Regions from separate parts of the Homo sapiens genome. Here region 1 is linked to region 2. A link means that fine-mapping ties the variant in region 2 to the expression of a gene that starts in the linked region. Tissue or cell type: whole blood. Region 2 holds a variant in brackets; the other region holds the start of a gene. All regions are shown on one strand. Distances are from middle to middle.

The links. PIP is the estimated chance that this variant, and not a neighbour inherited with it, causes the effect.
Region 1: it holds the start of EMID1, and the variant in region 2 is fine-mapped to the expression of EMID1 in whole blood (INTERVAL, PIP 0.95).

What each region holds. Positions count from the first base shown.
Region 1 is chr22:29,204,620-29,207,119 of GRCh38, forward strand. EMID1 (EMI domain containing 1) reads left to right here and starts at 1,277. Exons shown (of 15, transcript NM_133455.4): 1 at 1,277-1,520. The coding sequence starts at 1,420. It overlaps LOC101929638 (a long non-coding RNA gene), which reads right to left and starts at 1,213. Exons shown (of 5, transcript XR_938134.3): 1 at 852-1,213; 2 at 541-702. RefSeq lists silencers at 1,372-1,461, 1,472-1,631, 1,652-1,711.
Region 2 is chr22:29,156,930-29,159,735 of GRCh38, forward strand. It overlaps a transcript of KREMEN1 not described here. Among named protein-coding and RNA genes, the nearest start is that of EMID1, 48 kb to the right of the region's middle. The variant T/C (reference allele first, on the strand shown) is at 1,130.

The DNA.
Region 1 (2,500 bases), 48 kb after region 2:
GACAGGGCAACAGCTTTCTCTATGTGGACACACTGGTGATGGATCCCCCGTCCTGCCTGCCTGCCTGCCTATGGTGGCCTATGCTGCCTGCCCCTGGTGAGTCCAGGAGGGGCAATCCAGTGACTGGCAGATCCTTTCTGGGGAGTGTTTCTAGAAGGGACCGTGGGTCTGGACAAGCCATAACAGGAAGTAGCCAAGCTGGGCAAGGGCTTCCCCAGCCCAGGCCTAACTACTGCCCATCGATCCAGGCAGAAGGCGGGGTTAGAGACTGCCCTGGGAGATTGGGGGTCTGGGTCCCCTCTGATGAGAGCTCTGGTCTCTCCCTATAAACACACACTCCTATCACAGACACACACATAACACACATGCACATAAATCCACATCAAGCATGCACACACATCCATCATACACACATACGACACACACATGCACCCCTGCACACACACACTACGCTTACATATACCTTTGTGGGATGTAGAGCCATTCCTCCAGAAGCCCATCCATGTACCCCAGATGAAACCACCCAACACCAATTCTTACCTTGTTACATATGGTGAAATCAAGGCATAGACCGAAGTGCTGTGGTTAAGAGCTGTTACTCTCCGAAGTCAGGCGATCTGGGTACAAATCCTGGCTCTGCCAAACCCCTGCCACGGTGCTTTAGGTAAATGACAGCTCCTTTCTGTGGCTTAGTTTCTCCACCTGTAAAATGAGAATAAGAACAGACTCTGCACTTATGGGGTCAGCCCAGATCTCCTCCTAGGGAGACTGCGAGTGCCTGGGCCTCAGTTTTCTCTTCTGTAAAATGGGGATATTGTGCCCAGTTCGAGCAGAGTGGCTTGAAGAGTCACCTGAGATAGGATGTGAAGTGGCCGCGGTGAGGTGCCCAATACACGTGGCGCGCACTGCTCAGGAAGCTTTCCTTGGAGGGCTGGATCCCGCAAAGGTGTCGAAAAAGGATGAGTCCCGGATATCATTCGCTCAGGTGAGGTGGGTTCGGGTCCCGGCTGCGTCTGGGACCGTGGCCCGGGCCTCAGTTTCCCAGTCTACAGCCCGTGGGAGGACACCTCGGAGCTGGCACCCCGCCCCCAAAAGGGCCCCGCGGCGCAGGGCGTGGGGCTCAGGTGGACACCTGGCGGGCCTCCTGGCGGGGGCGCCCTGGCCGCCCGGGCCCCTCCGGGCTCCTTCCGGGTTGGCAGCGGCGGCGCAGGGGGCGGGGGGCAGCGCAGAGGGGCCGGGCGAGGCCGGGAGCGCGCGCCCCCGCCCCCGCCCGCCCGCCTCCTGCCCGCCCTCCGGCCGCGGAGCTGGAAACCGGGCTCCGCGCGTCCGGGGCGGCTGGCGGCGCGGGCAGGCAGGCGGGGAGGACAGGCTGGGGGCGGCGACCGCGAGGGGCCGCGCGCGGAGGGCGCCTGGTGCAGCATGGGCGGCCCGCGGGCTTGGGCGCTGCTCTGCCTCGGGCTCCTGCTCCCGGGAGGCGGCGCTGCGTGGAGCATCGGGGCAGCTCCGTTCTCCGGACGCAGGTAAGAGCTCCCGGCGCCTTTGCACCCCGCTGGCCGAGGGTCCCGGCGCGCACACGCCCCCACCTCCAGGAAGGGCTGGGATTGGAGGGCGATCCAGTCCCCAGCCCGGGTGAGGGCAGGGACACGGCCATCCCGCGGTCCGGCTGAGGCTCCCGCGAGTGCGGGGTCCCCTACTCCATGTGTCGGAGCTGGCTGCCTCCCCTACTCCCTCCCTTTCAACCCAGGAGCTCGAGAGGAGGGGGAAGGGGCGCAACGAGGGCGAAGCCCTGGCCCTTCTGTTCCCCTGTCCCTAGGGCCCCTCCCCCTGCACTTGGGAAAGGCCTATGACACCCCCTAGCCGACTCTTCTCGGACCCTCTCTCCCCTTTTCCCTGTTCCTGTTTTTTTGCTTTGTTTTGTTTTTTGTTTGTTTGTTTTGTACCCAGGCTATTTATCTCCCTCGGAGGAGGGACTGGGGTGGAGTCTCACAGCCCAGTGGGTCAGTGTCGGAGATACCCCAGGGACCTGGCATTTTGGACAGAGAAAAGAGGGAGCACAGTCTTCCTTCTGCTCTCCTAGCGGCGGGGAACCTCCTCCCTGCTGGCCTTTACGGAGGAGCTCCCAGAACCTGACATGGTGGGGCCCATTATTATATATAGTGTCCTCATCAATCCTTGAAGGACCGAATGAGGTAGGGAAAACTGTCCCCATTCAACGGTTAAGCAAACTGAGACCCTAGGGAATTGGCATCATCTTTTAGCCTCATGGGCTATTCACTGAAGAGCTAGGTTGCAAATCTGCCCTTCTATCCTTGATGACAGTGTTTGAACCTGTCCTGGCCTCTGTCCTGGCTGCAGCCCCAGCGAGGGTCCCCTCCTAAAGGCCAGCCGCCGTTGTCCAAGGCAGACAATGTGGAGTAGCCAGGCCTCTCCAGGCCTTTTCATCCCATTCAAAGGCCTGCGCGGCCCCCACCCCCTACGGCCTCAATTCTTTAATTCTTTT
Region 2 (2,806 bases):
AAAGCCTGTGCTGCCATCACTTAATCCTGGGTGGATAACATCTCTTCTTCAGACAGGTGTTCCTAGACCAAGGTCATCCTGCTGGTAAGTGGGGGTAAAGATGGACTGAACCCTTTTTACAACTTTGAAGCCACACCTGCCCATCCCCACATATTCATATTGGAAAACTCTTTCCAGAGGGTTATCATCTTCAGGCTTCTACAAACTATGCCAAGTCAGAGGAGCCGACCTGTGGGGGCTCCACGCAAAGATTACAGTCAGGTCTTCCCTTGGATGTAGCCAGAGACAGCTGAGAGCTGTCCCCTGGACCAGAATTCCATCATGAGAGGCTGGGGGATTGCCTTCTTTCCAGTGGGGGAGCCGAGGCCCAGAGAGCAGAATTCGTGTCCAAGGCCCCACCATGACTTTGTTTTTCGTTGTGGTTTGAGATGGAGTCTCGCTCTTGTTGCCCAGGCTGGAGTGCAATGGCACGATCTCAGCTCACTGCAACCTCCACCTCCTGGGTTCAGGTGATTCTCCTGCCTCAGCCTCCCGAATAGCTGGGATTACAGGCATGTGCCACCACGCCCAGCTAATTTTTGTATTTTTAGTAGAAATGGTGTTTCACCATGTTGGCCAGGCTGGTCTCGAACTCCTGGCCTCAAGTGATCCACCTGCCTCGGCCTCCCAAAGTGCTGGGATTACAGGTGTGAGCCACCACATCCAGCCCCCACCATGACTTTGCCTCTGTGGCCAATGTCATGTCCATGGCTGCACGGAGCTTCCTGAAAACACGGAGGCTGGTGGCAAGGACCCGCCTTGGAAAATGGGGAGAAAGCCAATCCCCCTAGATACATCCCCTGAGCCCTTGGGCTGGGAGAAGGGCATTGTGTAGCCTCTAAGGGAGACTACAAAGTAAGAAGGGATTGCTTCCATCTTGTCATTCCACCATCTGTGTCACAAACAGGCAGGTCAGGGGAGCAAACATGGCAGAGGGACATGGCCTAGGAGTCCTGTACTTCATTTTCCCTCACATTTCATTGTCTGTTACAGGTCACATGGTCTCACCTGGATGCAAAGGCCACTGGGAAATGTAGTCTTCCAGTGGGCCAGGAGTTGTGTACAATGAAATTAGCGAATATATAGCCTG[T/C]CTCTGCCACACTATTCAAAAACTCGTAGTCATGTCAGGGCCCAGAATGCCTTGAGATTGTTGCTCAGCACATGAGAGCATGAGGCTGGAGAAGTGGGCTGGCCCAGTGTGAGAAACACGGGTAAAACACGGGGTACCAATTTGCAATCTAGCCCCATGTGGTCCAGGTTCCTCACGTGCAGCCAGCCATGGCAGTAGAGGGACAAAATGATGCCGGAGCAAGAGACAGAGTCCCCCAGATGAATGTCAAGGGAAACCCAATAGCCCTGAAGACATCAAGGGGAGGCCACGCCAGCCAAGATTCCTGGCTCACTTTGCAGAAAAGAGGATGTAAGAGGGCACTGGGGAAGGAAAAGGGAGAACAGCGGAGAGGCGCCGACATGGGGCACGGGGAATTCTAGGGAAACTGGGCCTGGAGGGCTGGAAAAGTCTCTGCCACCAGCAGGGCAGCTTCATGGATGTGCAGCCTCCACAGTCACACAGAGCCCATCCTCACAAAGGCCCCACATTTGGCCCTAGCTGTCACTGTCTTGAAATTCTTAATCATTTTCCAAGAAGGGGCCCCATATTTTTATTTTGCACTGGGCCTCACAAATTACAAAGTCAGTCCTGAGTCCAGAAGGGATCAGTCTTGGTTCCAGATGGCCCCACCTCCAGGGCATGGCTGTGGCTGATGGTTATTTGCCAGCCTAGTGGGAGACCAAGACCACAGGAAATGGGTCTGGAAGATGATCGGCAGTAGTGGTCAGCTCAAGAGTGTTGATTTTTTGTTTTGTTTTTGTTTTTTGAGACGGAGTCTCAGTCTGTTGCCCAGGCTGGCTCACTGCTCAGCTCGCTGCAACCTCCGCCTCCTGGGTTCAAGCGATTCTCCTGCCTCAGCCTCCCAAGTAGCTGGGATTACATGCAGCTGCCACCAAGCTGGGCTAATTTTTGTATTTTTAGTAGAGACAGGGTTTCTCCATGTTGGCCAGAGCTGGTCTCGAACTCCTGACCACAAGTGATCCACCTGCCTTGGCCTCCTAAAGTGCTGGGATTACAGGCATGAGCCACGGTGCCCAGCCAAGTGTTTTTTTTTTTTTTTTTTTTTTTTAGAGACAGGATCTCACTTCGTTGCCCAGGCTGGTCTCGAACTCCTGGGCTCAAGTGATCCTTCCTCCTTGGCCTCCCAAAGTGCTGGGATTTCAGGCATGAGCCACTGCACCCAGCCAGCCCAGGAGTGTTTTGCTCCTTAATGTTCTCAGGTGTAAACATTCAGGAAGCAAAAACAAAACAAAACCAAAGGCCAGGAGCGGTGGCTGATGCCTGTAATCCCAGCTCTTTGGGAGGTTGAGGCGGGTGGATCTTGAGGTCAGGAGTTCGAGACCAGCCTGACCAACATGGTGAAACCCTATCTCTACTAAAAATACAAAAATTAGCCAGGTGTGGTGGCGCACGCCTGTAATCCCAGCTACTCAGGAGGCTGAGGCAGGAGAATTGCATGAACCCAGGAGACGGAGGTTGCAGTGAGCCGAGATCACGTCACTGCACTCCAGCCTGGGCAACAGAGCGAGACTCTGTCTAAAAAATAAAAAACAAAAACAAAAATAAATAAATAAACAAACATTCAGGAAGCACAGGTTTCAGACTCTCCTTGCTAAGGAGCAAGACTGGTCAGAAACAGGTGCTTACTGGTGAGAG